Linked DNA regions of Homo sapiens. The protein of the gene in region 1 interacts with the protein of each later gene in a pairwise test. Each region holds a gene or a part of one and is shown on either strand. Other genes may lie near its edges. The genes, in order: TSEN2, CTAG2 and GABPB2.

Region 1 (11,257 bases):
AAAGGCAGGTGGTGGGGCCTTTGCTGATGTTAATAAACTCACATTCTAGTTTATTCCCCAGGCTCTTGTGAGCACACTCAGCATGAATGCTGCTCCTAGAGCTCAAGTCATTTTCTGTGCTCTAACAAATCCGAACTTCTTAGTCCCTCAAGCAAAGGATTAGACCTGGAATGCAGGGCCTTACTGGGGTGCTGCCATGGTGGGAATCTTGCTGGGAATGAGTGAGCTGGTCTGCACCACCCCTATTAAATCACCTCCCATCAGTTTCCCAACAGCACACACAGTAAAATTAAACACATCTACTTTGAACTTGGGAAATATAAACGTTAAAGCTCCTTAACCTTCAAAAGTTGACTGCCTGGCAGCGTGTGGTGGCTCATGACTATAATCTCAGCACTTTGGGAGGCCAAGACGGGCAGATCACTTGAGGCCAGGAGTTAGAGAGTAGCCTGACCAACATGGCGAAACTCCATCTCTACTAAAAATACAAAAATTAGCTGGGTGTGATGGTGCATGCCTGTAGTTCCAGCTACCAGGAGGCTGAGGTGGGAGGATCACTTGAACCCGGGAGGCAGACGTTGCAGTGTGCTGAGATCACGCCACTGCACTGCAGCCTAGGTGACAGAGCGAGACCCTGTCTCAAAAAAAAAAACAACAACAAAAAAAACCAAAAAAAACCCCCAAAGTTGACAGCCCTAACTTCATGACAGCATTATGCAACTGCTTTTACTTTACAGTGAAATCAACTTTCATTTAAAAAAAAATTTGCTCCCCCAAATCAATCTATTTCTCACTGGATCTTGCTAATTAAAAAGCATTTGATTAAAAAATTAGCCAGACATGGTGTAGCATGCACCTGTAATTCTAGGTACTCAGGAGGCTAAGGTGGTGGGATACCTTGAGCTCAGGAGTATGAGGCTTCAGTGAGCTATGATGGTGCCACTGCACTCCAGCCTGGGCAACAGAGAGAAACCCTGTCTCTAAAAAATATAAGAATAAAAAATTTGAAGAGCAAAGCATTTGAGTGTTTGCGTGTGTGCGTGTCCACTGAAGGATGCAGAAGACGGATGGAGACAGAACTCTTCAGAAATAACTACTCAGAAATAACTGAGGTAAATACAGTTTATAGCTCTTCAATTACTCTATGAAAATTTCCAAATCTCTGTTCTGAATGAGTCAAGGCAAAGGCATGAAAACACCCCTACAAGGCCGCATGTCCACATCTGTGGAAGGTTGCAGACTAAAAGCTTCCCATGTCAGCGCTGAGCAGACTTCTAAGTTAGCTGTGTATCACCACTCTGAGTCCCTTAAGAGAGCTGTTGTGAATCACCACAGCAGGGGTGAGACCCCATTCTGCCTGTGTTCCTGACTAACATTCACAGAAACACTCCGCGGGTACATGCAGTGCACCAAACATAGGTGATTCATTCAAAAGAAATCTGCCAAAACAGAAAGACAAGTAGAGCTAGGTTTAACGGTGTGCTCCCTGAAAACTTCTGGAACACATCTCTGAAATGTTCTCAGGTGCCAGGCAGCTTCTAAGAAGGCAGAGTAACCTCATCTCCTGTCTCCTATTACTCTTGCCTTTCATCAGGGGGTGTTCAAGAGGAGGCAGCAGGCAGCAGCAGCCTTTAAAAAATTTGTCAATAAAAGACAGCAGCTGGTCAACTGGAACAGTGCAGCTGAACTCCCAGCATCTGACACGGAATACCCTTCGCCTACAGCTGCCACCTCCCAGGCCAGGCCTCCAGCCCACCCTCCATACTGATGCTAGCTCTGGTCACTGCCACTCCCCTACGGAATCCCCTGCAGTGCCCTGCTGGCCCAGGACCAGGCCAGACCCTGACTCATGGACACACCCTCCCCCATCTGGCATTCGTTTTGGCAGAGCTATCTGGAAGAGCCTTTACTACCCTGTGTCCATGTGGCAAGCCCCATTTATCCTTTACTATCCTCAGCTATCATGACTGCAAAAGCTTTCCACCTCAGCCCTGCAAGATGGTCTCCACCAGCTTCGATGCAAATTCCCTATCTTGTACATTCATTCATTTAATAAGTATTACGCACCTAATAGATGTCAGGCATTGGGCCCAAGGAAACAGGAAGAGCGATACTGACAAGATCCATATGCCACACTATGCTTATCACACTGAACTGTAATGATTTCTGGGCTATCTTTAAGACCAAAGTCACATTCTACTTATTTCAGTATCGGTAGCACTTAGCCCAATGCCTGGCACATAGTAGGTACCCAATGGGCATTTTTGTGATTGTAAAAAAGAAGGTTCCAACAAGCTGCTAATTAGCTTTTACAAGTAACTTAATAATGACAAAAATAGCAGGCACTAACATTTATTGAGCATTTACTATATTATCAGGTACTGTCCTGACCCAATTACATGTATTATTTAATTTCCAGAACATCCTATGAACAAGATGTTACATAGCCCCCACTTTACAGAGAAGAAATCTGAGGTTCTGACAGGCCAAACATCTAAGAACGGGTACATGTGGGCTATAAAGCGCTCCACAGTGCTGGGAATGCCTACGCATCTGCTGTTCAATACAGTAGCCAGTGGCCACACGTGGCTGTTCAGTGTTTGAGACGTGGCTGGTGCAACCGAGAAAAGGAATTTTGAATTGTTTATTCTATTTTATTTTATTTTAGAGACGGAGTCTTACTCTTTCACCTAGGCTGGAGTGCAGTGGTGCAATCTCAGCTTACTGCAACCTCCGCCTCCCGGGTTCAAGTGATTCTCCTGCCTCAGCCTCCCGAGTAGCTGGGATTACAGGTGTGTGACACCACACCCAGCTAATTTTTGTATTTTTAGTAGAGATGGGGTTTCACCATGTTAGCCAGGATGGTCTCGATCTCCTGACCTCGTGATCCACCCGCCTCGGCCTCCCAAAGTGCTGGGATTACAGGTGTGAGCCACGGCGCCCGGCCCCCACAATTACTTTCCTGTGGTCTCAGCTATAAAATTACCAACATGGATGTGTTCCATAGCACTTCTTGGGACCTACCTGTATGCCAAGAACCACACTGGACACTGCAGGAACTATCAAAGAAAGCCATCACAGAGCTCCTGGAGAAGAGGGGAGCCCAAGAAGCGGTCCTAGCTTCAAAGGCAGAAAAGACATTTCTGTGTGCACTATCAACATAAGCAAGAAAAGAGGGTCTGAGCATAAAGTGACCACAGGTTAGAGGAACTCCAGGTCACTGGGACAATATGATGCAGTTTATGGAAGGCCACTTTTAGCCACTTTTTTTTTTTTTTTTTGAAACAGGATCTCGCTTGTGCAGTGGCGTGACCTCGGTTCATTAAAGCCTCGACCTCCCAGGCTCAAGCAACCCTCCCACCTCAGCCACCCAAGTAGTTGAGACTACAGGCATGCACCGCCACACCTGGCTAATTTTTGTATTTTTTGTAGAGATGGGGTTTTGCCATGTTGCTTAGGCTGACCTTAAACTCCTGGGCTCAAGCTATCTGCCTGCCTTGGCCTCCCAGAGTGCTGGGATTACAGGTGTGAGCCATGGCACCAGGCCCAAGCTAACTTTCAAGAATGTAGCTACTGCATTAAGTAGAGGGATCCTGCAGAAGGAAATAAATCCATTTACTTAACTAGCAGTCACTACATGATCTGAATCATGTAGCACAGTATATGAAAAGTAGAGACTCCATGAATATACCAAACAATAGCGACTTGTACTCTTTAAGTGGATAAATTGTATGGTATATGAATTATAGTATTTTTGAAAAAGCTAGTGAAAATTAGTAACAAAATATTCAGCCAATCCGAAATCCACTTTTTTCTTCTTTCCACCCCCCTACCCCCGGCATCACCAGTCAGCATCTGTTAACAATCTGAAATCTTTTTATTCTTTTTTTTGTTTGACACAGAGTCTCACTCTTTCGCCCAAGCTGGAGCGCAGTAGTGCAATCGTGGCTCACTGCAGACGTGACCTCCTGGGCTCAAGCAATCCTCCCACGTCAGCCACACAAGTGGCTGGACTACAGGCATAAGCCATCACACCTAGCCATCAACATAAAGCCTTTTTTTTTTTTTTTTTTTTTGAGACAGAGTTTCATTCTGTCACCCAGGCTGGAGTGCAATGGCACGATCTTGGCTTACTGCAACCTCCACCTCCCGGGTTCAAGCAATTCTCCTGCCTCAGTCTCCTGAGTAGTCGGGATTACAGGCATGAGCAATCACTCTAATTTTTGTATTTTTGGTAGAGACAGGGTTTTACCATGTTGGCCAGGCTGGTCTCGAACTCCTGACCTCAGGTGATCCTCCTGCCTTGGCCTCCCAAAGTGCTGGGATCACAGGTGTGAGCCCCCGCACCCGGCCTAACAATCTAAAATCTTAATGAGAAAAGAAGTACTCAGAAAAACCCCTCGAATCTTCTGTGGAATGATTGCAAACACATATCTTAGAACTGATGAAATAAAGGCTGAGGAGTGAAAGGCAGGCCTACTTGGGAGCTACCCATAGTGATTTCAATACTGAATTACAATATTCAATAATTGAATTACATACAGAACTACACTGTGAGGTAGGTTCACATATAGTGTAGTTCAGGCCCAGAGACCGATGGCTGAAATAATAATATGTTGAAAACATACCTCTTCTAGGCTGAGTTGCAAATACTCAAAGATCCTATATGGATTTCTTCTGCATATTAACCTGTTTCTTTGCACCAACTAAAGAGAAAGAAATACAATATATACAGAACAAATGGAAGCACTACATGTCATAGAGAATGTATTTTAAAATGAACATTTTTCTTATAAATTCCCAGGATTCACATTCTATTGTGTTAATATTATAAAGAATGATTAAAACACAATTTTTTTGAGACGGACTCTTGCTCTATTGCCCAGGCTGGAGTGCAGTGGTGTGATCATAGCTCACTGAGGCCTCAAATTCCTAGACTCAAGCAATTCTTCTGCCTCAGCCTTCCCAGTAGCTGGGACTACAGGCGTGTGCCACCATGCCTGGCTAATTTTTTGTACAGACAGAGTTGCCCAGGCTGGTCTTGAACTCCTGGCCTCAAGCAACCCTCCCGCTTCAGCCTCCCAAAGTGTTGATTACAGGTGTGAGGCACCACGCTTGGCCAAGAAGTGCTTTTTTATTACTTGTGTGGAAAAGGAAGTTTTAACTTTTTCACTATGAAGATTCTCATTTATTTCCTTTTTCCCCTGTGAATTTTTCCTGCAGTTGTAATCATTTTGTTGGTGAATTTTATTTTACGTGTTGCTTTTTTCACCCAATTGTACCTAATAAGCATGTGCCTATGTTTTTGTTTTTTTGAGACAGTGTCTCACTGTTGCCCAGCCTTGATCTCCCAGGCTCAAGAAATCCTCCCACCTTAGCCTCTTGAGTAGCTGGGACTACTGGCATGTACCACCACACCCAGCAATTTATTTTTGTTTTTAGTAGAAATGAGGTCTTGCTATATTGCCCTGGCTGGTCTTGAGCTCCTGGCCTCAAGTGATCCTCCTGCCTCGTCCTCCCAAAGTGCTGGGATTACAGGTGTGAGCCACTGCACCTGGCTCCTATGTTCTTAATATGACTTCATAAACCTCATTCTAAGTCTACATGATATTTCTTTGAATGGGTATCTCATATCCCATTTAGCAATTAGATTGTTTCTAATTTTTAGCAATTCCAGACAGCTCTAGGGTAACTCTGACAGCAAGTCCCTTCATGACGTAGCTCTTACCTGGCCTCCCTAGGCTTTTCTCAAGATGGCTGACTTCCACACGTGAGCCCTTCTTGCTCAGCTGTACTCAAGATCAGGTGTAATTATCACCGCATTTTGTTTTCTCCCAAATAAAGGAGAGAATACCACTGGCCTTGTCTTAATTTTATAAATTTTTTTAAAAGTTATTCACCAACTCTGGGGTTTTAGTTGAAATGGCCCTCACAGCTGCTGTGGCCCAAAGCCTGCTGCTTCCCTTGGACCCTACAACAGGCCAGCTACCAGCTGCAGGCAAAAGACATCCCTATTAGCCAACATCTCCAGGAACGGATGGCTTTGGAGGAAGCGATTTATTTTCTTCTACTTACTTCCTCATTTGGGGCAGCCTCCCTCTCGCTCATGGCACACTCCGCTTCCTCGACCAGCACGTACTCATGGTCAGGCCCTCTGTCCCCAGGATGCAGGAGGCCGATGTGCTGGCTGCCGTCTTCATGATGAAGGCCACGCTGGAGGATGAGAGCATCTTGTTTGCAGCAACAGACATGGGGCAGAGGTGAGGCATCCTCTCGCACGCTTTTCTCAAAGCTCTCTGTTGTTGGGTGGCAGCCAGAGCCCTCCTGCAGGCAGCCTAATGGCTCACGGGGATCACCCACACCACCTGACTTTCCAGAGTCCCCGTTTACCACAGAAGGTCTCTCTCCCCCTGCTGTGCCTTCCATGTTGGAAACCATTCCAGAGTTAAGCTTGTCATGCACTTGAGCCTCTTCATTCCTTTTCACAGGAGGATGCTCAAGCGGTTTCGTGTAATCCTTGAGGATTCTGCGCACTGTACTCTCATCCTGCCCCTGTCTACGCATCAGCTCTGCTGCCCACTCAACACTATGCTGATACCTGCAAGACAGAAATACTGTTAGAAACAGCACTCGAATTTCAAAATTGAAAAAACAACAAAGCACATAAAACAGACTGGAAGGTGACACACCAAAATGTTTACAGCAGTATTATTGAATGGTGCATTATAGATAAATATTTTTCTTCTTTATACTTTTCTGCATTTTCTTTTCTTTCTTTTTTTATTTTTTTGAGATGGAGTCTTGCTCTGTTGCCAGGCTGGAGTGCAGTGGTGTGATCTTGGTTCACTGCAACCTCCACCTCCTGGGTTCAAGCAATTCTTGTGCCTCAGCCTCCAAGTAGCTGGGACTATAGGCATCTGCTAACACACCTGGCTAATTTTTGTATTTTTAGTAGAGATGGGGTTTCACTATATTGGCCAGGATGGTCTCGATCTCCTGACCTCACGATCCGCCCGCCTTGGCCTCCCAAAGTGCTGGGATTACAGGTGTGAGCCACCGCGTGTGGCCTCTGCATTTTCTAAGTGTTCTGCAACAAGCATATGTTACTTCTTGTTTCTTTGCTTTTACAATATAGTTTCATTTTATTTGCTTTATTTGAAAAAAAAAAAACAAAAAAAAAAACAAAAAAAACTAACCCCCAGTTTAACAAACTATGAAAATTTATCTAATTTAAAACTGATAGATTAAGTGATTTAGGTAAATAAACAAGAAAATGGCCATCCTTTATCAAGATTTTTTTTTTGTATTATTGTTGTTATTTTTTGAGATGGAGTCTTGCTCTGTCACCCAGGCTGGAGTGCAGTGGCACGATTTCGGCTCACTGTAACCTCTGCCTCCCGGGTTCAAGCGATTCTTCTGCCTCAGCCTCCCGAGTAGCTAGGATGACAGGCTTGCGTCACCACCCCCAGCTAATTTTTTGTATTTTTGAACACAAATTTTTGGCCAGGCTGGTCTTGAACTCCTGACCTCAAGAGATCCGACCGCCTTGGCCTCCCAAAGTGCTGGGATTACAGGTGTAAGCCACCGCTCTCAGCTTGTTTTGTATTATTTTCAATTTTGGATCTCATAATGTTTTCAGATAGATATGCCATTCATAATACAAATAACTTGTTTAGCATTGGAAAGCAAAATGAGAATTTCAATAAATATTCATCACAGTGCCTACTAACCCTTTCACAGGATAAGGAGAGAAATGATTTGGCTTATGTAGATTCATCCACATATTCTAACAGAAATGGCCCTTTTCCTCACAATACTTTGCAGAGTAGATTTTATTGATAAAATTCTTGTTAAGTTTCTAAAACTTGAAGCTAACACCCAAGTTACAAAACACTTCCCAAGTTACAAAAAATTATAGGCAAAACAATAGGGCAAAGCATTCATGCCTAGGCTGTTGGGATGTGTTCATGTGATGTGAGAACTACCAGATGTTGGAAATCTGATCAGAAGGTCAAAGACATTGTGAAACTCAAGTGCTTTTTGCCTCGACCTTCAGTGATTAGTCTGAAAGGCATCCAAGACAACACGTGGCTTGTGAGAAGGCAGATGTAACTTTACTTTTCACCTTCTTTTACCTGGTTAAGAAGACTGAACAGTGCTCGATGCGGCAGCACATATACTTAGAATGGCCCCTGTGCAAAGATGACACGCAAATTTGTGAAATGTTCCAAAAGAAAAAAAAAAAGACTGAATATGTCATAGTTTACAAACTGCTATATCTCACACAGTTCAACAAGGACATTGGCTTCTGCTGTACCTAAAAAGAGACTAGTGGTTGCTTAACCCTGATTCCTAAGAATCCCAAAGCTGTCTATACCCTGTTCACCCCACATGAGGATGAACATCAGGGATGCCTCCCTATATACTGGGAATTGTATCCTAAAGATTAACACCTGGTAAGGCTACCCTAATACCTGAGAGTCAGTACGGCACCGTGACTTTGGTATGGCACATTTTGTGTCCAGCCCTGTTACTTATAACTGTGTGGCAATGCAAATTACTTAACTTCTCCGTGCTTCAATTTTCCCACCTATAAAATGTGGAGATGAGTACTACCACCTCAAAGGGATCTTGTTATGTATTACTTTTAAAACCAGCAAAAAGAACATAGCTGTGCCACAACCTGCAGGGTGTCTTCTCACCTGGAACATGGCCACCTATGCATACGTTTAAAAGAACTTTCATGTGAGGGGTCTAAAAAGAATCTTAGCTCTTCATATCAACATAAGCATTGGCTCTACAGGGTCTATAAATTTCCTTTATTTGAACACAAATTTTTGTGACAATATATTTTTCTGGGGAAGGGACCCAAAACTTTTGCCAAATTCCGTGACTCAAAACACGTGACAGAACCACTGATTTAAAGGGTCAATAGTTCCTCCTTTGACCAGAAGATCTGGAGTGAAGTGAGCACACAGAGGGCACTGCTCTGCTCTTTGCAGCAGAGCAGTCAAAGCAGACGTGGGTTCCAATCCTTGCTCCATCACGTTCTCATACCAGCTATATGACCCCACCTCTCTAAGGCTCAGTGACCATCTACAAACCAGGGATAACTGCACCTACCTCCTGGGGTTGCAGCAAGAATTAAATAAGACACGTAAAGTGCATAGCCCATAAGAAGTGTTCAATCAATACTACTATATCATTGTGGAGTTTTTAGGAGTGGCTTGAAAAATAAATCAGACTCAATATATGGTATCTTGAAAAAGATGTTAATGAATGGAAATGTCTTAATTTGCTGTTGAGAGCAGAGGCAGCAGTGCAGGGATGAACGCAGCCTCTGGAGGTCTAGGTCCTGGAGTTGGCTCTTCCGTGTGGCTCTGAGCTAAGCCACTTAGCACTTCTACCTCTGTGCCTTCTGTCACATACCAGAACCAGGCCATACCTGTGTTCCCTTTTCAGGGTCTCAGAGGATCGCTATGAAAAGTCAAAGGAGACTGAGGCTCGAAGAGCATGTAGAAGAAAGCCTCCAAGTCAGATATGATGAAAAGAGCCACACAAACAAATGACTAAGACAACGACACATGGGTCAGAGCTGAAGGCGTCCTCTAGCTGGCTGGCAACACCTTAAAAAGCCAAGTCCTGTTGCCATCAATCCCAGATGCTGGAGCAGTTGCAGGAAGAGAAATGAGAAGTAAAATGCAGAAAGTGTTAAGGGGGAGCGTGGCAGAAGGATGAGGCAGCAGCCACGACTGGAAGCAGTGACAGGACTGGGGAAAGCAGCACCATCCAGGACCGCAAGGACACAGGACGTGCCCATCAGAACACGCCAAGGCTTCTCATGTTTCTGCACCCTTGAACACACACCTCTCCCATTTGCACAGGGCACCGTTCCCTATTGTTGTACTGATGAATGCCCCTTTATCACTGGAAGTGCACAGCAGAGTGGTTTAGAGTGGTTAGCGCACATAGGTTCTGGGGCCACAGTGCCTAAGTCCACATACTGACCCTGAGCAAGGAGCTTCACTTCCCTGTGTTCAGTTCTTCCAATTGTGGAAGATGGATAAGAACAGGACCCACCTCATGGCAGTGATGTGAGGACCTGAGATGACACACAGGCCCATCACTGGCACGATACTTAGCACTGGAAGGTGCTCAGGGAGTGCTGGTGTGCACACCCATATCAATGTCTCCCAGGCTCTGGCGCTGAGCCCACGTAATCTTGGGCAAGCTACTGAAGCCTCCCCTGAGTCCCCATCTACGAAACAGAAACATCTCTAGTACCTACCCTCGAAGGTTTCTTGAGAAGATGAAAGGAGGTAATGCAGGCAAGCTCAGAGACTGGGAATGGCACTGCCAGAGCAGTCAGCACCTGTTGGCTATAATGGTGATGGTATCTCTATCACAACACCGACTACTACAGGACAGCACAACTGTTCACTTCTCTTCCTCTCTCACTAGACTGTAAATCCTTCAAGAACAGGGACTAGGTCTTTTCCTCGCTCTTGGGTCCCCAGCACCTACCCAATGCCTGACACATAGTGAATTCTGGCTGAATAAAGGACAACGGGGTGGGCAACCAGCACGACCATCAGGGCTGGTCCTTCAGGGACATACCCCTACTTGTGTCAGTTCCCCAAAGGCATCACAGAAGGGTCCTGACACTTACCTTCAGAAAGAGTTACGCAGAAGGTGCGTAACTTTATCCAAGGACGACTATTATTGGAAAAAGGCCAATTTGAGTGAATCGACTTGAAATAAAAATCAGAATTTCAGAGGCATCAGAAAAGAAACAATTATGGCCAGGTGCAGTGGCTCACACCTGTAATCCTGGTGCTTTGGGAGGCTGAGGTGGGAGGATCACTTGAGCCCAGGAGCCCAAGACCAGCCTGGGCAAGAGCGACACCCTGTCTCTACAAAAAATACGAACAACTATTATGACAAGTATTTAAGTTGAAAAATTAATCTAAAAATATGAACATGCATCAATTTTTCTTATATTTAGCAAAATTTAGATTGTGATTCCAAGTGTTGTGAACAAATAATAAATCAAGTATTGGTTTTGGTTGGGGGACGTATGTAGCTTGCTGATAGAACTGTGCTGGTAACATCTTTAAACATCCTTAGGTTCACACGGGGAAATGAGCTGTAATCTGAAAATTTCTTATAAAAAATTAATCCCCACAAGCATACCCCCTTCAAGCAACATTCCTGCACTGTCACTATGTGTCGTTTATGTCACTTTGTCCTTTGTTAT
Region 2 (10,286 bases), on another chromosome or scaffold:
TTACATCCTAGGGCAGGAGGGGAAGAGGCAGCTCCAATTAAGGAAGGGCCGCCCTCTGGAGACAGGCCCCGGGTCACTCCGGGGGTCTCCCTGCAGCGCCTGTGGTGTTGCTCCCAGACTCAGTGGGCCAGCAGGTCCCTACCTGACAGTTACTGTGCTCCTGGATCTTCATCTTTGCTCCCTGGGCTTCTGCTTTTGTGCCCGTGATGTTGGCTGCAGGGGCCAGTGGCTCAGCACCTGGTCAAAGTTGTCTGGATGCAGTTACAGCTGCAATGCAGCTGGACTTCTGAGTCAGCCCGGCCAGGGTCGCGGCCCTGGGGCATGGTGACCTCTCCCGGTGCTGCTTCCCCTGGGGCACGGTGACCTTGCTGGGGCGGGCACATGCTGGACTCGTGGCCAGGTTTGCCCGGGCCTCCCCGTTTCACCAGGAGTCAAACTCCTCTAACCGCGTGTGACGACCACTCTGCATGTTTGAGAGGACGGAAGTTAAGTGGACTCTTCAGACTTGACTTGGAATTCTGGAATATGAGGGCTAGAGGGAAGCATTAGGGACCTCTTCACCTGAGGCTGGGGTGTGTTCTGCCACAGCCCTGACCCATGCTCCCACCAGCTGTGACAGAGCCCTCAAGGGCTGGAGCGCTCACTGGCTCCCAAGGAATCCCGCTGGCATGACAGGAAGGTCTCTCTGACATTGCTGCTGGTCTTTCAGTTTTCCTTTGCGCACCTCGGGCTGAAACAGAGCGAGTTCACTGCGTCCCTGCATTCCAGGAAGCTCCCCAGGTCTCAGCGTCCTCTCTCAGCTTCCATCCGTCCCTGGCCTTGACAGAGAGCCGGGCCTCTCCTAACACACCACCGATCCAGAGGAGAAGGAAGCCGCTCACACCCTCCGGGGCAGGCATGCGGAGGTGGCATTCGCCTGGCTTCCTGCTGGGACTTCCTCACAGCGTGCCCACGTCTCTTGGAAAAACTCCTCTGCTCTGAGACAGAACCGGCTTTGGCACAGCCTGGATGTACCAACCCCCCTCGCCTTCCTCAGTTGTGCAGTGATTTGTTCAGCCTTTCCGCAGCTGGTGGACATTTACATTCTAAAAACTATTTACGTGGTGGTGTCATTAAGATGCTGGTGGATTCTACCTCATTTGCATATCCAGGAGTTTCTCAGATGGATTCCTCAAGGTGGGTGGAAGGGAATGTACATCTTTCCCTTAATAGAAAATGCCAAATAAATGTCCAGATAGATGTTACTACCACTCCTACTGACAGTGTATGAGTCCTCGTTTCCAACTACAGCCTTGCCAAGCATTGGAGATTGTCAACTAATATTATTAATCTTACATTAAAATCTGCTATGTTCCCACCGAGCAAATGCTAAAACAAAACTCAAAGGGATCAAGTTGTCTCCGAGCAACTTAAGAGCATCCCAGAACACAGCTCAAGCATATGTCTGTTTTGCTTTGACAAACAGCCCCTTTCCAACCTAGCTCTGCCCAAGATGGTGCCAGCGTGACCTCCCGGCAGACAAGACACCTCAGCATGTCATGCAGACCCCACAGCTGCCTGCTCCCTCCCCTGCCTACCATTCACGCCAAGTCCTCCTTTAAAAGGCCCTGCTTTCTGCCCCCAATGGGAAGCAGTGCTCTTAAAGGCAGGAGCCTGTACGTCTTCCCCTAAACCAAGCATGGCAGAAAGTCAGTTTCTTTACAGGAAACCTTGCTCTTGTTCATTAGACTCTGCAAGCAGTAAGAGAATCTGTGTTAACATTACGTGTTTACAAACATTTTACGCTGTTCACATTTACTATTATTATTACTTTAGAGTCAGGGTCTCGCTCTGTCGCCAAGGCTGGAGCTCAGGGATGCATTCATAGCTCACTGCAGCCTCGAGATCCTGGACTCAAGCCACTTTCCCACGTCAGCCTCCTGAGTACCTGGGACTACAGGTTCCTGCCACCACTCCCTCCACCCCTAATTTTTAAATGATTCTTATAGAGATAGAATCTCACTACATTGCCCAGGGTGGCCTCCAACTGCAGGTCTCAAGCCATCCTCCCACCTGAGCCTCCCAGAACAATGGGAATACAGGTGTGGGCCACCATGCCCGGCCCATATCACATGTTTAACAGTGAAATAATGCTGGTTTTATGCATCTATTCAAGTACATGTTTTTGAAGCATTTTTAGAAAGCACAAAAGCTCATATGTTCAATGAAAACAATTTGGGAAAAAATTTAATGCTGACCTGGAAAAACATTATATATGCTACTGTCATATATTTAACATATAAATGCAAGTATATTGAGGAAAATATTCTAAAATGTCCACAGTAGTTAATGCTGAATGGCGGGACCCAGTGGCTTTTCATTTTCCCCCATTTCCCAAATTGCCTCCCGTTACCTTGTGCTACTTCAATCTGTGAATCCCAGAGCCTCCCCTACAACCCGAGGACAAGGGCATGCAAGTCCGAAGGTGCCTTCGCTCGCCGAAAAGAGACTCAGACACGGAATCGTAGCTCAGCTTTATTTTCTACAGAAACAAACATGTAAGCCGTCCTCCTCCAGCGACAAACAATCAGGCCCCCACAATGAACTGGCCACTCGTGCTGGGACCATTCCCTAGGGGAGGAGGCATGACCTAGGAAGGGGCGCCAGGCTGGGCTTAGCGCCTCTGCCCTGAGGGAGCCTGAGCCAAAAACACGGGCAGAAAGCACTGCGTGATCCACATCAACAGGGAAAGCTGCTGGAGACAGGAGCTGATGGAGAGCTGCAGTTGGCGGTGGTCTGCAGCAGTCAGTCGGCTAAATGTGAGGGGCAGAGAACATCACATTAAAGGCGACACCTCTGCACCCATCTCCCTGGGCTCCCTCGGGTGGCGGCGGGCCTGGTGTACCAGGTCTCTGTTCTGAGACCTTGTGTTTGGGTGTTCTGAGATCTCTAGCTTTCTGCCCCTCCGGGGAGGCGGATCCCAGCCCCCAACCCACCACCCTCATCCGCCCAGCGCCTTCCCTGTCCTGGTCCCGAACTGACATAAACAGTAGGTTGCCGGACACGGTGAAGTCCTTCAGAACCGCCCCTGGTCGGGGGAGCGGTGCGGCATCCCGGGACAGGATCCTGCGGACCAGCTCCGCTTCCATGGGCGACGAGAAAGGCATCGTGATGTGCCTGGTGGGGACCCAGTTAAGGTGCCATCTCCTAGGATTTGGCCGGTGCCCATCTCATCCCCTCAGGCTGTCTCCCCACGCACTGGCCCAGGTCCTGCAGCAACCCCACCCAGCTGTCTTGATTCCCCACTTTCCTCTGTTGCACCTCAAGCTGACTCCTGCGTGCCCTTCCAAGGCCCTCCCCACCATGCCCCCTGCCGCATCAGCCGGGACCTCTCCCCATCGCTTGACACCACCCCCATCCAGCCCACACCCCAGCCACCGGCTCCCACCTTGCACGCTTCCCCCCAACTCCTGATCCCTTCACACACCCAAGAACCCCTGTCTCCTGTCCCCCTGCCCCTCACCCCATCGCCCAGCACCCAACTGTGCACACGCTCCACCTCCCATCCCCTACCTACTCCCTTCCTCTGAGCCACCCCTCGACCTCCAACTCCCAGCCCCCACCCCCACCCCACCCGGCGCCTTACCCCCATCTCCCAAACCCCACCTTCCGCACCTGGCCCTGCCCTCACCCACCTCCTGGCCCTGCCCCCCACCTCTTGACCCTGTTGTCTCCGTCTCACGGCCCCCACCTCGCCACCAGAACCTCCTAGAACAGAACAGAACAGGATACAACTCAAGCAGGCGGCTGTCCGGCCTCCTGGCCCCGCAGGGGCACCTTCCATCCTGCGCAGAAGCGGCACCGCCATGCGGACCCCGCGGGGCGCCTCCTCTCGGCCCCGAGGCCCTTGCTGCCCCTGCGCCCCGGGGACCTCTGCCGCCCGTGGCACCCGCCTCTCCTGGGCCGCCAGCATTGCCCCCTGGGCCATCAGGAATGCCAGGGCCTCCTGGGCCATCAGCATCGCCCGTCGAACCCCCTGTGCCCCGGCCTTCGGCCTGCATGGCTCCGGAGCCTCTGCCCGGCTCTCAGAGAGAAGGTCAGGGCCCACGAGGATGCGGAGGCAGAGAGGCTGCAGGAAGTTCCGCCCCCTGGCGTGAGATGGGCAGCCCGGGATCCTCAGGGCGCCTGCGCACAGGGGCCCTACTTCCGGCCCTGGGAGACCCCGAGTGAGCCCCGGAGCACGTGACCGGTTCTCACCAACCCCGCCCCTCCCCAAGAGAGCCCGGGCCGGAAGGTGGCCGCAATGCCAGCTTGGACCCCTCACCCCTGAGCAGCCGGCTGTCCGCCGGACCCCTGTCCCGGGAGCCCTGCAGGGAGTCAGGCACTGCGGGGCCCAGCCTGTCCCATCCCCCGGGTCTCCCTCACATCGAGGAGCAAGACGGGCCTGGGAACACGGGGCCGGGACTGTGCGGCCATCGTCCCGGACCCTGTCTGCCCTGTCCGTCCTTGGGGGAGCGCCCAGGACAGACCCCGGGGGGCAGGCCTCTAACTGGGCTCAGCAGCCTCCGTCCCTGTCCTGGTCGCCCAGCTGGTGGGGTAGCTGGAACTGCATGTCTGGTGGGCGTGGCCTCGCGCCAGCCAAGGTCTCCCAGGCGCCAGGTCCAGCCAAGGTGGACGGGAGGGCCCAGCGGGACCCGGGGCCGGATCTCACTCCTGGGTTCAACGGGTTCTGTCCCTGTCCTAGTCGCCCCGCCTGGTGGGGGAGCTGGAGCTGCGTGTGGGGTGGGTTGCGGGTGGCCTCCCACCAGCCAGGGGCTCCCGGGCTCTAGGCCTGGCCCAGGTGGACAGGCGGGACCTGCTGGACCTGAGGCTGGGTCGGGCCTGGCTCCTGGGTTCGGCAGTATCAGTCCCTGCCCTGGTCGCTCTTGCCTGGTAGGGAGCTGGGAGGTGACCCTGTGTCTGCTGGGTGCTGGCTTACTTCTGTGTCTGGAAGGGGGTCAGATCCACAGGAAAGGTGCTGCGAGAGGCGGGCAGGGGTGGGGGTGGCATGGCCCTAGGAGCTGGGTGTCTGTCCCCACGCCCTGTTCACAAGTCTGTGGGGCGAGAGGCTGCAATACTCCATCCCGGGTGTCTGGGCTGCTCACCAGGCCGGCTCAGGCTTCCCACATCCTGTACCCTGGGTTGGGCATGAAACCGATCCAATCGTCCCATAGGCTGTTCTTTTTGATACACATAGAAACTGACCCTTCTGGTCTTCAAGCTTGAACCTTACAGTTGTTTTATCTGAATTCCTTCCTCAGGAAATGACCTTCGGGCCTCTCAAAATATCAAAGAACTGAAACTCACCAGATAACCACATCCAGACAATGAGATGCTGGACCCCCCAAATTCATCAGGATTGCTTTCTGGGCCCTCCCGAGTTCCTGTTTTCCTACACATTGGTGCATTTCTTCCTGGCTATATAAACCCCTAGTTTTAGTCAGGGGGATGGATTTGAGACTTAACTCCCATCTCCCCGGCTGCAGCACCCAATTAAAGCCGTCTTCCCTGGTAATGCTCTTCGTCTCAGTCAGTCATTGGCTTTCTGTGCGGCCAGCAGCAGGACGTAGACCAAACCCTTGGTATTTCGGTAACAGGCACACCCCCAGGAAGGGACCCCGGACACGGCTACCACCTCTAGGCTTAAAGCGAATGCACTTCCCGCATCTCCAGTCTTCCGTGTAGCAGCTTTAACCTATGTATGTCTGTGCCACATCCAGTCCTCAGACGGCTGAGTGACCCCAAGAAAGGCTTCCCCGACACCCAGACAGAGGCTGCAGGGCTGGGGCTGGGTGAGGGTGGCGGGCCTGCGGGGACATTCTACTGTGCTAAAAAGCCACTGCAGACATAGCAATAAAAACATGTCATTTTCCAAAGCAGGCTCCTGCTTCTGCCTCTGCTGCTCTAAGAAGGGGTCAGGGTGCAGGAGGCAGGGGGAACCTCCTCCAGCTGGAGCTGCTGCGGTGAGCAAGGCTCTGCTCTGGAGGCCTCTGAGGCTGGCACCCTTCTGGGGACTGGGAAGGGGGCAGGGAAGGCAGCAGCCCAGGGAAAGCCTCGTCCCCCTGGAGCCGAGGCAGTTGGGGAGAGCAGGACGAGAGTGAGCTGGAGAGCAGCCACACCGATGGGTAAGGGTGGGTGAAGGGATTCCACAGGTGTCTAGAAAACTGGAAAGAGCTCCTTAGCAGGTCCAGGCCCCAGGTGTAGGGGAGGACCAGATGTGGAGGATGAAGACGGTTGTCCAGAGGGATCTCCAGGCGTTGGCATTATTGGGTCCTACTGAGATGCTGTCAAGGAGAAAACACAGGCTGTGTGTGGCAGGGCGACAAATGAGTGCTGCTGCCAAGCTCTGTCCTGTTTTCTGTGCACGTCTCAGAGCCCCTCCAGTGACCGTCATCTCCGGCCTCCTCCTGCGCCTCTGTGTTCGTAGACATCTTCTCACATCTCAGATCCTGCTGAGCCTCTGGGCCCCCTGCACGTGCCTTCTGCCTCTCGGCTGCTGGGGTGGGGACCTCTGTGCCCTGTGCCAGCGCCTCTCCTGCAGCTCACAACACATCTGCTTTTTCTCCTGCGCCCTGCACAGGGTGGGCCTGGAAGCTCTGGGGAAGTTGTACCCTTGGACACAGCCCCCCACCGATGGGGCCAAGAGTCACTGGATAAAAGTCTTAGTCTCTCACCCTTTGAAGGACAACTCTGAGGTGCGGCTGACTGTGGAGCGAATGAAATGAAACGGATGCACGGGGATGGGTGTGGACAAAGGAATGCCGACTTCTCAGGCTGCCGATACATATCTCAGTAGAAGCACGGGGGAATGCTATATAGAGAAATATTTCTATAGTATCTGAAGTGTTTAGAATGTATTGACCTAATATATACACAATAAAAGTAAAAACATTGGAAGAAAATTTAGATGAACTTTATTTGATTGTTGGAATGGAAAAGACTTTTCTCTCTTTCTTTCTTTCTTTCTCTCCTTTTCTTTCTTTCTTTCTTTTCTTTCCTTTTTTTCATTATTATACCTTAAGTGCTGGGGTACATGTGCACAACGTGCAGGTTTGTTACATAGGTATACATGTGCCATGCTGGTTTGCTGCACCCATCAACTTGTTGACCTAGCAATCCCATTACTGGGTATATACCCAAAGGATTGTAAATCATTCTACTATAAAGACACATGCACATGTATGTTTATTGCAGCACTCTTCACAATAGCAAAGACTTGGAACCAACCCAAATGCCCATCAATGTTAGACTGGATTTTAAAACTGTGGCACATATACACCATGAAATATATGCAGCCATGAAAGAGAATGAGTTCATGTCGTTTGCAGAGACATGGATGAAGCTGGAAACCATCATTTTCAGCAAATTAACACAGGAACAGAAAACCAAACACCGCATGTTCTCACTCGTAAGTGGGAGTTGAACAATGTGGACACAGGGAGGGGAACATCACACACCGGGGCCTGTTGGGGGTGGGGGGCTGGGGGAGGGATAGCATTGGAAAAGACTTTTCTAAGCCTACTAGCAATGAGAATAATAATAACCAATAACATTTGTTGGGTGGTCACCATGTCCCAAGCCACTGTTGTAAGCACTAGACAAGAATTGGCTCATTTATCCAGAAATACACCACATTTTCATTGTCGTTATCCTTGGCGGTGAGATAACGGTTGGTTTTTTATTTTCTCTTCCGAACTTGCCCATATTTCCTCTTCTTTTGCAGTGAACATGTATTACATTTATAAGCAGAAAGCGATTAAGAAAGTTATTCATTACTTGCTGTTGAGGAAAATTTCTAATTAGCTCTGGAGTGAGCCAGTTTGCCAAAGTTTAAATTAGCCTGTTCAATTCATTGGAGGCCATATTTTTCCTCTGAAACTTGTTCTAATTGGCACCTTTTCTTGATGTAATGAGGCGGACGGTGCCGTGATGAAGTCTCTGAAGTCACCGAGCCTCGGGGCCCACGCTAGACACCACGGGGCAGATGTCGCCCGGCTCTCCTGGTCATCTCTGTGGCTTTCAGCCGCTTCCAAAAAACAATTGTTTCCAAATTCCACACACACAGTTCATCCTACCTTGAAAGTTATTCCTCCAGAGGGCTGTTGATAGTTTGCTTCATCAGCATTTTGTCACTATTACACACTGAGATTTTTTTTTTCTTCTGCACCTTGGAGGTACTCATGAAGAACACATGTGTGCTTAAACACAAAACCTACCGAGGCCCATAACAGCCCCTCCCCTCCAGAGGGCCGGTCCTGGTCCACACACGCTGGCAGACAGTCTTTGTGTTTCCGAATCAGAGAAGACTTGCTTGGAATGGATGAAATGTATTTGAAATCACATTAGGCATCATCTGGAATGGTGAAGCTTCAGAGGTGACAGGGCCAGGATGTCTATATTCAAAGAGGGCCATTGAATTAAAGTTAAGCAGGGATCTCTTTGCTTGAATTCCAGAGTTTCAAACCAGCACAGTCATGTGAGCTTGGATGGCCTGTAGGTACTTCCAACCCAACCTGCCCCCAGCTGACCTCACTGCCTGTCCCCCGACTCCCGGAATGGCTTCCCTCTGCTTCATTCTCTGTCTTGGCGACACGCGTTTCCATGGTCCCGCACTCTGTCATCTCACCTTCCGTCCAGTCAGTTTCCTTCAATGTGTCCTCTCCACCCTCCCTAGGCCAGGTCGGCATCATCTCTCACCTATATGATGAGAACAATCTCCCCCGGTCTACACAGATTCCCGGCCCCTTTCCTAGGAATTTGGCCTGAGTGGGGCGGTCTAAGTGGGGATGATGTAGGCTGGCCTCATATGGCCCAGGGGGAGGGCCCAGCCATACCTACCAGGGCTGATGAGCACGGCTTGTTTCGCCCTGTGGGGGTCATTGCAGGCTCTTGTGCGGGACTCGGGATGGGGGTCTGTTGGGAAGCCCCGGATGGCCTAGTGTCCTGGCCTTGAGCCTTTGGTCTTCTCTGAGCGCCCACCCGCCATCACTTGAGAACAGTGAAAGGCAGCTGTGTTGACCCTTTGAGCAGCATGTGGCCGTTCCTAGGTTTGGTGGTAGGGGTGAGTGACCCTTTCCTGTGAAGGAATGGCGAGTAACCATTGTATGACAGTGAATTGTCTTAGTGCCTAATAGCCCAGCCTACTTTGTGAGCTCCATAAAGGCAGGAAGCTTGTCTGGAGCTTTTCTGTATCCCCAGTGCCAAACCCCATAATGGGGAGACACGAGGTACTCTCTCATTCTTTCTTTCAAGAAATATTTCCTGGCCGGTGCGGTGGCTCATGCCTGTCATCCCAGCATGCTGGGGAAGATGGGGTTTAGCATGTGAGTGAGGACCACACATAGCACAGAGAGCACCCAGTCGCCCAAGCCAGAGTATGCAGAGTTGGGAAGGATGTAGCAGGGGACTGAAGTGACGTAGAAAAGACCGATCATAGTGAGATGGGCAACACAGGTAGAAAAGGCTTTTCTTCAGCCCTGGGTGGAATGAATCCTGAACAGCAGCCACAACGTGTCCATAGGAGACCACGACCAGGACGCAGTGTGCAAGAGCCACCAGAAAACTGAAGAACAGGGCAAGTTCATTGGTACGTGTGCTGAAGCAAGAGAGTCTGAGCAGTGACGGAGGTCGCAGAAGAAGTGGGTGATGAGGCAAGGCCTGCAGAACTTGGGTAGAGCTGTGAGGATGCTGTAGGTGAATGCGTTGGCCAAGGCCAGCAGGCAGGAGATGGAAGTGAGGCCCGTGTGGGTCAGTCGGCCCACGAGGACAAAGTAGTGCAATGGCTGGCAGATAGCTGCATAGAATCATAGGCCACGGCTGTGAGGAGGAAGGACTCCTAGGGTGCCAGGAAGTGGAGAAAGCATATCTGGATGAGACAAGCACAATAAAGTACGGGCCCTACCTGAGCCAGCAAATGCACCAGCACCTGAGTCACCATGTTGGAGATACAGGCGGCATCCATCAGCGAGTGGCCGCCCAAGAAGAAGTACATGGGAGTGTGGCGTCGGTAGTCCACTGTGAACATGTGGCTCCCAACCACAACCACTATGTAGATTAGCAGAAAGGTGGTGAACAGCAGGGGCCTCCAAGCCTTGCTGTCCCTCAGGCCTTTCAGAAGAAACTGGGACACTAGGGTCCCATTCCGCAGCTGCTTGGAACCACGCACAGAACCCTGCACCTGTAGTATGCAACTCAGAGTCAGATGAGGGTCTAGGTGTGGAGTCCCAACTTACAAGGGGGGGAGGGGATGAGGGATGGACTAATGACTA
Region 3 (11,257 bases), on another chromosome or scaffold:
GAAATCCCGTCTGTACTAAAAATACAAAAATTAGCGCGTGCCTGTAATCCCAGCTACTTCAGAGGCTGAGGCAGAAGAATCGCTTGAACCCGGGAGACAGAGGTTGCAATGAGCCAAGATCATGCCACTGCGCTCCAGCCTGGGTGACAGAGAGAGACTCTGTTTAAAAAAAAAAAAAGAAAAGAAAAAAGAAAAAAAAATCATTTCTCAAACTGATATTTCTTTTTTTCCTTTTTCTTTCTTTTTTTTTTTTTTGTGAGCCACCGCGCCCGGCCTCTTTTTTTTTTTTTTTTTTCTCACCAGTATGATGATGCGCCACCACCCCCGGCTAATTTTTGTATTTTTAGTAGAGACTGAGTTTCACCACGCTGGCCTGGCCTCAAGTGATCCTCCCATCTCGGCCTCCCAAAGTGCTGGGATTACAGGCGTGAGCCACCATGTCTGGCCAGCAGCTTTACTTATTTTATTTTATTTTATTTTATTTTATTTTTTGAGACCGAGTCTCATTCTGTTGCCCAGGCGATCTGTTGCAGTGGGGCGATCTCAGCTCACTGCAAGCTCTGCCTCCTGGGTTCACGTCATTCTCCTGCCTCAGCCTCCCGAGTAGCTGGGACTACAGGCACCCACCACCACGCCCGGCTAATTTTTTGTATTTTTAGTAGGGCCAGGGTTTCACTGTGTTAGCCAGGATGGTCTCAATCTCCTGACCTCGTGATCCACCTGCCTTGGCCTCCCAAAGTGCTGAGGTTACAGGCGTGAGCCACTGTGCCCGGCCAGCAGCTTTATTTTAAAGTAGACAACCATCCTAAGCTCGAAGTTTCTCTTGCTCAAGCACCAATTCTGATCCATTTGTCTGTTTTTTCTTTCTTTCCTTCTTTTTTTTTTTTTTTTGAGACAGAGTCTCGCTCTATTGCCCAGGCTGGAGTGCAGTGGCACAATCTCAGCTCACTGTAAACTCCACCTTTTGGGTTCAAGCAATTCTCCTGTTTCAGCCTCCAGAGTAGCTGGGACTACAGGCGTATGCCATCATGCCCAACTAATTTTTGTATTTTGGTAGAGACAGGGTTTTGCCATGTCGGCCAGGCTGGTCTCGAACTCCTCACCTCAAGTGATCTACCCACCTCAGCCTCTCAAAGTGCTGGGATTACAGGCGTGAGCCACCGTGCCCAGCCATTTTTGTCTGCTATTTGATTCTTAATAATCCAACCTTGCCAATAAACAGTTGGAATCCTCTAACCCAGAAGATCTAAGCAATATTTCCCCAACTTCCATGACTAATCCAGAAAGATATGCAAAGTCATGAAATGGTATTGCCATTAATGTATTCAATATTTAATTTCTAACTACTTCAAAGCATCCTCACCTGCCATTCTCTCCATGGCAATACAATTGGAGATCAAATCCTATTTCCCTTATCTGGGATGCCAAGAGGACCGTTCCGAGTAAATAAAAATCAATGCCTTTTTCTTACTTATTTTCAGATACCTCCATTCTCTCCCTCTCTACCCTAGCCTCTCCTCTAACAAACTGCCCTATCTCAGAGACCCATCATAAAAAATGACTTGGCCTGTATTAGAGATTTTGGGGGTTGGGGAGGTAGGAATGATAGCTTCTGCAGAAAGAACAATAAGATCTGCTAAAGAATTCCCCCAAAAAAGTGGTGACTGTATAGTCAGAAGGGCATGTTGGATGGACATTCTCTGCCTTTAGTCAGTAGCCACCCCAGAGAGTGAGCTGGTTGGGCCTGAATATCATCTGCAGAGTTAACCTCCTTCCCCTTAATGGGCGAGGTGTGGGGGAAGAGGGATTAAAGTCAACATATGCACCGAGAACATAAATAAAAGATATCTAAAATGATACTTGGTTCCTCTATCGTTAAAGTAAGGCTCCGAAATCCCACACATAACAGCTTCTTGTTAGCACCTGGTTCCCAAAGGGACTCAGAAAAAATAAAAACATTGCAAACAGGAAAAGATTATTTGACAGCAGATAGAACAATTTCATCATCACCCTTACCTAGGCTACTCCCCCTCACATTTTCCTGTCATCCCCAACAGCCCAGAATATTCTCCAATCATCTGGGAAGTGTTAAGTACTCAGATCTGTGGAGAAAACAGATCTGTGGAGAAAACCTAGCTAAGGTGGCCAGTAGCCAAGGTTAATTTCCAAACTGATATTTTTGCCTATAAATCTCTAATAACCAATTCTGTTTGTTAAATTTGGTTTGGGGAGTTAAATTTTCAGTCTATTTTGAGACCCAAGTGATTCTGCTCCTCTGTAACACTGCAGCAAATTACTTCACTAATCAAGGTAAACAGAACCATGTTAACTGTCAGGTTTTTTCCAAATTAAAAATGCATGTTTTCCCCATGACTGCTAATTAAGAAAACCATATTCTAAACAGTCATTCGAATGTTTACTTGGCACATCTCCCTCTGGTTTCTTCTAATTTATAACAAAGCAAGCAAGTCTAGAATGATGAGGGCCCAGTTTCAAAGGCAATAACCTCTGTAACATAACCTGTTCATAACCTCTCTCTCTCCATCCATATTCCCTTTCTTTGGGAAAAACTCCATGCTGACATACAAAGAAAACCCAGCAGGTAGGTGGTCAGGCGCAGTGGCTCACGCCTATAATCCCAGCACTTTGGGAGGTCGAGACAGGTGGATCACCTGAGGTCAGGAGTTCAAGACCAGCCCGACTAACATGGAGAAACCCCATCTCTACTAAAAATACAAAATTAGCCAGGCATTGTGGCGCATGCCTGTAGTCCCAGCTACTCGGGAGGCTGAGGCAGGAGAATCACTTGAACCCAGGAGGTAGAGGTTGCGGTGAGCCAAGATCACGCCATTGCACTCCAGCCTGGGCAACAAGAGTGAAACTCCGTCTCAAAAAAAAAAAGAAAAAGAAAAAGAAAACCCAGCAGTTAAACACTTTCCAAAAGTGTCTGGGCAGAGGAAGTGTAGGCATAGTGGGAGAGAAAGGAAGAAGACAAAGTAGCCAGAATCTTTGGTTCTTTATGGCACTGACAGTTCTTATTCCCTTTGTCAACACACACTGAGCACCCTATAAGGCACAAAGCTCTGTAACAGACCCAAGCTTAAGGAAACAGAGCAATTTACTCATGCCAGATCAAAAGGAAATAAAACTAAACAACATCATCAGCATTTACCTCCGACCCCCTTTTTGTTGCACATAAGAGGATAAGATATAAGCTCCACAGAAAAGCACAATATGTCCTAAATGACACTTAGAAAATTCAACAAAGTTTTATAAAATTAGAGTCTAGGCTGTGCGCGGGGTGGCTCACGCCTGTAATCTCAGCATTTTGGGAGGCCAAGGCGGGTGGATCACCTGAGGCCAGGAGTTCCAGACCAGCCTGACCAACATAGAGAAACCCTGTCTCTACTGAATATACAAAATTAGCCGGGCGTGGTGGCGCGTGCCTGTAATCCCAGCTACTCGGGAGGCTGAGGCAGGAGAATAGCTTGAAACCGGGAGGTGGAAGTTGCGGTGAGTTGAGATCACACCATTGCACTCCAGCCTGGGCAACAAGAGCAAGACTCCGTCTCAAAAAAAAAAAAAAAAAAAAGAGAGACTGAGCTTGACATTACATAAATGTTTGGAAACAAGTTTTTCTGACAAGAGACTACCCTCCTCACTGTAATTTTATGAAATCCAGTCAGAGCAAAGTTTATATGTCAAGACCAGAGTTTCATAGCCCCTATAAGCCTTTTTCTGGCCACTTCCCAGCACTGTGGAAACACAGCCTGGATTTTGGTTTTATATATACTCCTCCCACATAAACAAGTTTTCTTTCTTTTCTATTTTTTTTTTAATTGAGTTTCACTCTTGTTGCCCAGGTTGGAGTGCAATGGTGCCATCTCGGCTCATTGCAACTGCCGCCTCCCGGGTTCAAGCGATTCTCCTGCCTCAGCCTCCTGAGTAGCTGGGATTACAGGCATGTGCCACCACACCCAGCTAATTTTGTTTTGTTTTGTTTGTTTGAGACAGAGTCTCACTCTATCGCCCAGGCTGGAGTGCAGTGGCATGATCTTGGATCACTGCAACCTCTGTCACCTGGGTTCAAGTGATTCTACCGCCTCAGCCTCCCGAGTAGCTGGGATTCCAGGTGCCTGCCACCTCGCCAGGTGAATTTTTGTATTTTTAGTAGGGTTTCACCATCTCGGCCAGGCTGGTCTTGAACTCCTGACCTCATGATCCACCCACCTCAGCCTCCCAAAGTGCTGGGATTACAGGCATGAGCTGCCGGGTCTGGCCCTAATTTTGTATTTTTAGTAGAGACAGGGTTTCTCCATGTTGGTCAGGCTGGTCTGGAACTCCTGGCCTCAGGTGATCCGCTCGCCTCGGCTTTCCAGTTCAGTTTTTAAAAACTCTATTTCAATTTCCTTTTTTTTTTTTTTTGAGACAGAGTCTGGCTCTGTTGCCCAGGCTGGAGTGTAATGGTGCGATCTCAGCTCACTGCAACCTCCGCCTCCCGGGTTCAAGCGATTCTCCTGCCTCAGCCTCCCAAGTAGCTGGGATTACAGGCAGGTGCCACCACGCCCGGCTAATTTTTTGTATTTTTGTTTGTTTGTTTTGTTTTTTTGAGACAGAGTCTCACTGTGTCGCCAGGCTGGAGTGCAGTGGCACGATCTTGGCTCACTGCAACCTCCACCTCCCAGGTTCAAGCAATTCTCCTGCCTCAGCCTCCCAAGTAACTGGGACTACAGGCGTGTGCCACTATGCCTGGGTAATTTTTGTATTTTTAGTAGAGACGGGGTGTCACCATGTTGGCCAGGATGATCTTAATCTCTTGACCTTGTGATCCGCCTGCCTCTGCCTCCGAAAGTGCTGGGATTACAGGCGTGAGCCGCTGCGCCCGGCCAATTTTTTGTATTTTTAGTAGAGATGGAGTTTCACCGTGTTAGCCAGGATGTTCTTGATCTGACCTCGTGATCCGCCCGCCTCGGCCTCCCAAAGTGTTGGGATTACAGGCGTGAGCCACCACGCCTGGCCTAGTTTCCTTTTTCCTTTGAGATACAGTCTTGCTCTGTCACTCAAGCCTGGAGAGCAGTGGTGCAACCATGGCTCACTGCAGTTTTGACCTCCAAGGCACAAGCGATCCTCCCACCTCAGCCTCCTGAGTAGCTGGAACCATAGGTGCCTGTCACCATACTTGGCTAATTTTTAAATTTTTTGTAGACACAGGTTTCTATGTTGCCCAGGCGCATCTCAAACTCCTGGACTCAAGCAATTCTCCCATTTCAACGTCCCAAAGTGTTGGGATTACAGGTGTGAGCCACCACACGCAGCTTATTTCAGTTTCTTACACAAGCATCTGAACTATAGACACATAATGGATAAGTATCTGTCAGACAATCAAAAATTTCTTCTCAGTGATGTGGTGGCATATGCCTGTCCTCCCAGCTACTCAGGAGGCTGCGCCCTGGAGGCGGAGGTTGCAGTGAGCCAAGATTGCACCACTGTACTCTAGCCTGGGTGACAGAGTCAGACCGTGTCTCAAAAAAAAAAAAAAAAAGGGAAAATTCTCTTCAGTGAAATTAACTTAAGGTTGGGAGTTCCTGCTCCTTTGGAAATGGACTATATTCCTTTTCTCTTCCCCAAAGCTTGTCTAACTTCCCTTCCAATTGGTTTTTCCAACAGATACGCATCATAAATCTAAGGGGCATTTTCAGGTCACTTGATGGTATAATTATTAAAGGCATATATATTGGTGCATATATATTAGAAATGTTATCTTAAAATCTTTTGTGAGAAAGTCAGTTATTTAAAAAAAAAAAATCAACCCACAACATGCAGTATTCTTTTACTTCTATGTTTAAAGCAATGATATGAGCTAAGAAATTTGGTCCTTTATTCTTTTGGCCCCTCAGAAAAAATGTTCCCTAAATATGGCTTTGAATTTTCTAGTTGCACAGAGAAACTTCCTGAGCCCAAGCATTGTACCCTGCTATAGTTTTCTTCTTAAAGACACTCTTAGTTTTTATACAATGTTTGTCTTCTGTATATTTCCTTTTTTAAAAGAGGATTAATATGAACACAGTGCAAATTGTGGCCCTTGCATATTAAGATGAAACAGTTGCCATGGAAACTCTAGTGTGAGGCTCTGTGGTCCCTGCTGACCCAGTCACTTTTGTCTCTCTCTCTTCCAACTCCCCCTCTGTGACTACTACAGCATCTACCTCAGCCACCTCTTCAACCATGGTGAAATCAACTCCATTGGGCTGCTGTCGGGCTATGGCCTCCAGCTTAAGACGGTACTGTTCTGCTTCCTGCTCTTTCTTTAGGAGCTGGTGTCGGTATTCCTGGGCTCTTCGATTGGCCTCCTGGAGTTGTTGCTGTAGTAGCTCTCTTTCATTGCCTTCCTGTAAAAGTAAGCCATGTCACCACCAGGTAAATTCCTGATCATAAATTATCCAGACAGTAGACAAAAAGACAGGCCAGGAGCGGTGCCTCACACCTATAATCCAAGCACTTTGGGAGGCAGAGGTAGGCAGATTATCTGAGGTCAAGAGTTCGAGACCAACTTGGCCAACATGGCAAAACCCTGTCTCTACTAAAAATACAAAAATTAGCCAGGCATGGTGGCAGGTGCCTGTAATCCCAGCTACTCAGGAGGCTGAGGCATGAGAATCACTTGAGCCCGGGAGGCGGAGGTTGCAGTGAGCTGAGATCATGCCACTGTACTCCAGCCTGGGCAACACAGCAAGACTCCGTCTCAAAAAGAAAAAAGAAAAGATGAAGAAGGGTTCAGGCCTTAATAATTAAGGCTTTAAATTCTTTTCATCACTCCTAAAAACATTACCTTGCTTTCCTCCACACTGTTTGTCTTCTCTCCTATCCTTGGTTTCTTTGTTAGTGGCAACTTCTCTTCTTCTTCCTCTTTAATTACAGTCTCCTCTGCAACCTTACCAGCAGGTACAGTTAGAACTACAAGTCAAAGGACACCAATTGGAGGTGATGAATGCATAATAAAACAAAGAGGTTTTGCTTGCTTTTAATTAGAAAATAAACTAAAATATATTCTAGGTTGGGTACAGTGGTGTGTGCCTGTGGTCCTAGCTACTCAGGCAGCTGACTGGAGGACTTCTTGAATCCAGGAGTTCAAGACTAGCCTAGACAACACAGCAAGACCCCATCTCAACAAAAAAGCAAAGAAAGAGAAAGTAAAATATATTCCTTGATATATTATTTTTAATATCTCTTTGAATTTTCGAATCAACAGGTAAGGCATGGCCCTTCAGGGAGAAACAAAAAGGATTAATAGAGCACTGAGAATGGCTCAAAAAGGAAGGGTATAGATTTGCAGGCTTGGAAGCCATGCAAGTAAGTCCCAAGTCTGAAGCTCTTATATGAAGGTGTCTGACTCTAGGTCACCTATGGCCAATTAGCTTATCAATCCGCCCAGAAATGGCAGGGCAAGGTGGCTCACACCTATAATTCTAGCATGTTGGGAGGCTAAGGTGGGAGGATCACTTGAGCCCAGGAGTTCAAGACCAGCTTGGGCAACATGGCAAACACTGTCTCCGCAAAAAAAATACAAAAAATTAGCCAGGCATGGTGGAGCATGCCTGTAATTCCAGCTACTTGGGAGGCTGAAGTGGGAGGATCACCTGAGCCTGGGAAGTTGAGGCCGTAGTGAGCCAAGAACTCGCGACTGCACTCCAGCCTGGGTGACAGAATGAGACCCTGTCTTAAAACAAACAAACAAACAAAAAAAACTGCAGAAATAATCTGTCAAAAGAAGGCCTGAAGTCTTTATATATTTTTGAGACCTCTAATAAAAGCCAATAGCCATTATCTGTACCTAAATTAATTCTCTTCTCATAGATAAGTGAGAGAAGAGTCAACACACACACAACACACATGACACACTACACATCTGTCAGAATGGCTAAAAGTTGTTTTTTTTTTTTTTTTGAGATGGAATTTTGCTCTCGTTGCCCAGACTGGAGTGCAATGGCGTGATCTCTGGAGTGCAATGGCTAACTGCAACCTCCGCTTCCCAGGTTCAAGTGATCTCCTGCCTCAGCCTCCCAAATAGCTGGGATTACAGGCATGCCCCACTACACCCGGCTAATTCTGTATTTTTAGTAGAGACAGGGTTTCTCCGTGTTGGTCAGTCTGGTCTCAAACTCCCGACCTCACGTGATCCACCTGCCTTGGCCTCCCAAAGTGCTGGGATTACAGGCGTGAGCTACCACACCCGGCCTTTTTTTATCGAGAAGTCTCACTCTGTAACCTAGGCTGGAGTGCAGTGGCACAATCTCAGCTCACTGCAACCCCCACCTCCTGGGTTCAAGCAATTCTCCTGCCTCAGCCTCCTGAGTAGCTGGGACTACAGGTGCATGCCATCACACACAGTTAATTTTTGTATTTTTAATAGAGATGAGGTTTCTCCATGTTAGCCAGACTGGTCTCAAACTCCTGACCTCAGATATTCCACCTGCCTTGGCCTCCCAAAGTACTGGGATTACAAGTGTGAGCCACTGTGCCGGGCTAAAAGTTTTTTAAAAAGTGATGATACCAAATGCTGGAGAGGATGTAGACATACTGGATTATTCATAAATTGCTGGTGGGAATGTAAAATGGTACAGCCGCTCTAGAAAATAGTTTGGCAGGATGGGCGCAGTGGCTCATGCCCTGTAATCCCAGCACTTTGGGGGGTCGAGGCAGGCAGACTGCCTGAGCTCAGGAGTTTGAGACCAGCCTGGCCAACATGGTGAAACCCCATCTCTACAAAAAATACAAAAATCAGCCGGGTGTGGTGGCACCTGCCTGTAATCCCAGCTACTCGGGAGGCTGAGGCAGGACAATCACTTGAACCTGGTATGCGGAGGTTGCTGTTAGCTGAGATAGTGCCACTGCACTCCAGCTTGGGTGACAGAGTGAGACTCCATTTGAAAAAAAAAAAAAAAAGAAAATAGTTTGCCAGTTTCTTTCTTTCTTTCCTTCCTTCTTTTGAGACGGAGTTTCATTCTTATTATTCAGGCTGGAGTGCAATGGCGCGATCTCGGCTCACCGCAACCTCTGCCCCCAGTTCAAGCGATTCTCCTGCCTCAGTCTCCTGAGTAGCTGGGATTACAGGCATGTGCCACCACACTCGGCTAATTTTGTATTTTTAGTAGAGATGGGGTTTCTCCATGTTGGTCATGCTAGTCTCAAACTCCCGACCTCAGGTGATCCGCCCAAGTTTGGCAGTTTCTTAAAAAACAAAACAAAACACACACTTACCTTATGACCCAGCAATTGTACTCTCGGGCATTTATCCCAGAGAATAGAAAATTTATTTCCTACTTGTTTTTTTCTTGAGACGGAGTCTGGCTCCACCCAGGCCGGATTGGAGTGCAGTGCAATGATGCTGGCTCACTGCAACCTCCACCTCCCAGGTTCAAGTGATTCTCCTACCTCAGCCTCCCGAGTAGCTGGGATTACAGGTGCCTGCCACCACGCCTGACTAATTTTTGTACTTTTAGTAGAGATGGGGTTTTGCCATGTTGGGCAGGCTGGTCTCAAACTCCTGATCTCAGGTGATTCACCCACCTTTGCCTCCCAAAGTGCTGGGATTATAGGCTTGAGCCACCATGCCTGGCCTATTTCTCATTTGTTTTCTTTTCTTTTCTTTTGAGACAGAGTCTCGCTCTGTCTCCAGGTGGAGTACAGTGGCACAATCTCGGCTCACTGCAACCTCCACCTCCTGGGTTCAAGAGATTCTCCTGCCTCAGCCTCCCGAGTATCTGGGACTATAGGCATATGCCACCACACCCAGATAATTTTTGTATTTTTAGTAGAGATGTGGTTTCACCATATTGGCCAGGATGGTCTCGATCTCTTGACCTTGTGATCCGTCCACCTCGGCCTCCCAAAGTGTGTGAGCCACTGAGCCCGGCCCTATTTCCCATTTTTTTATTTCCCATAAGAACCTGTAAACAATTATGGTGTTCATAATGCTTTATTTATTTATTTATTTATTTATTATGAGACAGAGTCTCACTCTGTTACCCAGGTTGGTGTGCAGTGGCAGAATTATGTCTCACTGCAGCCTCAACCTCCTGGCCTCCAGTGACCCTCCCAAGTAGCTGGGACTACAGGCACACAAAAGCACGCCTGGCTAATATATTTTTTTTTTTGTATTTTTTTTTAGAGATGGGTTTCGTCATATCGTCCAGGCTGATTTCAAACTCCTGGGCTTAAGCTATCTGCCGGCGTAGTCCTCCCAAAGTGCTGGGATTATAGGCATGAGCCACTGTGCCCAGCCAGTTTTATTTTTAGATAGCTGAAACTGGAAGCAGCTTAAATGTCCTTCACTGGGTAAATGGTTAAACAAACTGTGGTACATCCATATCATGGAATAATCTCAGCAATAAGAAGGAATGAAATATTGATTCAAACAACAACTTGGATGGGTATCAAGGGAATTATGCTGAAAGGAAAAAAGCCAATCTCAAAATCATGTATACTGTATGATTCCACTTATATAACATTATTGAAATGACAAAGTAGAGGATGGGCACGGTGGCTCATGCCTGTAATCCCAGCACTTTGGGAGGCCAAGGTGGGCGGATCACCTGAGGTCAGGAGTTCGAGACCAGCTTGGCCAACATGGCAAAACCCTGTCTCTACCAAAAATACAAAAAATTAGGTGGGCATGGTGGCATGTGCCTGTAATCCCAGCAATAGATTTCTCTGTATTATTTCTTAGAACTGTACTGAATCTTTAATGATCTAAAAATAAAAAGTTAAAAATTATATTTACGTTTTAGGATATATTATGATTATTTTAAAACAGAAGATTTGGCCAGACACGGTAGCTCATGCCTGTAATCACAGCATTTTTTTTTTTTTTTTTTTTGCAGTTGGAGTCTCCCTCTGTTGCCCAGGTTGGAGTGCAGTGGCACGATCTCTGCTCACTGCAAGCTCCGCCTCCGGGGTTCACCCCATTCTCCTGACTCAGCCTCCGGAGTAGCAGGGACTACAGGTGCACGCCACCAGGCCTGGCTAATTTTTTTGTATTTTTAGTAGAGACAGGGTTTCACCGCGTTAGCCAGGATGGTCTCGATCTCCTGACCTCATGATCTGTCCACCTCGGCCTCCCAAAGTGCTGGGATTACAGGTGTGAGCCACCGCACCCGGCCAATCACAGCATTTTGGGAGGCCAAAGTGGGAGGAAAGCTTGAGTCTAGGAGTCTGAGACCAGCCTGGGAAGCTTAGCAAGACCTCATTTCTATTAAAA

What was found.
Region 2: the proteins of TSEN2 (region 1) and CTAG2 interact in binary tests that used the Homo sapiens proteins (3 or more experiments, as listed by UniProt).
Region 3: the proteins of TSEN2 (region 1) and GABPB2 interact in binary tests that used the Homo sapiens proteins (3 or more experiments, as listed by UniProt).

What each region holds. Positions count from the first base shown.
Region 1 is NC_000003.12:12,498,603-12,509,859, reverse strand, and holds part of TSEN2 (tRNA-splicing endonuclease subunit Sen2), read right to left. Parts: intron 8,193-11,257; coding exon of another isoform or gene 8,136-8,192; intron 6,599-8,135; coding exon 6,076-6,598; intron 4,707-6,075; coding exon 4,629-4,706; intron 3,153-4,628; exon of another isoform or gene 3,025-3,152; intron 1-3,024.
Region 2 is NC_000023.11:154,649,476-154,659,761, forward strand, and holds CTAG2 (cancer/testis antigen 2), read right to left. Parts: upstream 4,105-10,286; 5' UTR 4,041-4,104; coding exon 3,772-4,040; intron 3,157-3,771; coding exon 3,022-3,156; coding exon of another isoform or gene 2,793-3,021; coding exon 2,654-2,792; 3' UTR 2,502-2,653; downstream 1-2,501.
Region 3 is NC_000001.11:151,113,089-151,124,345, reverse strand, and holds part of GABPB2 (GA-binding protein subunit beta-2), read right to left. Parts: intron 6,955-11,257; coding exon 6,830-6,954; intron 6,390-6,829; coding exon 6,090-6,389; 3' UTR 160-6,089; coding exon of another isoform or gene 31-159; 3' UTR 1-30. UniProt on the Homo sapiens protein: May function as transcription factor capable of interacting with purine rich repeats (GA repeats).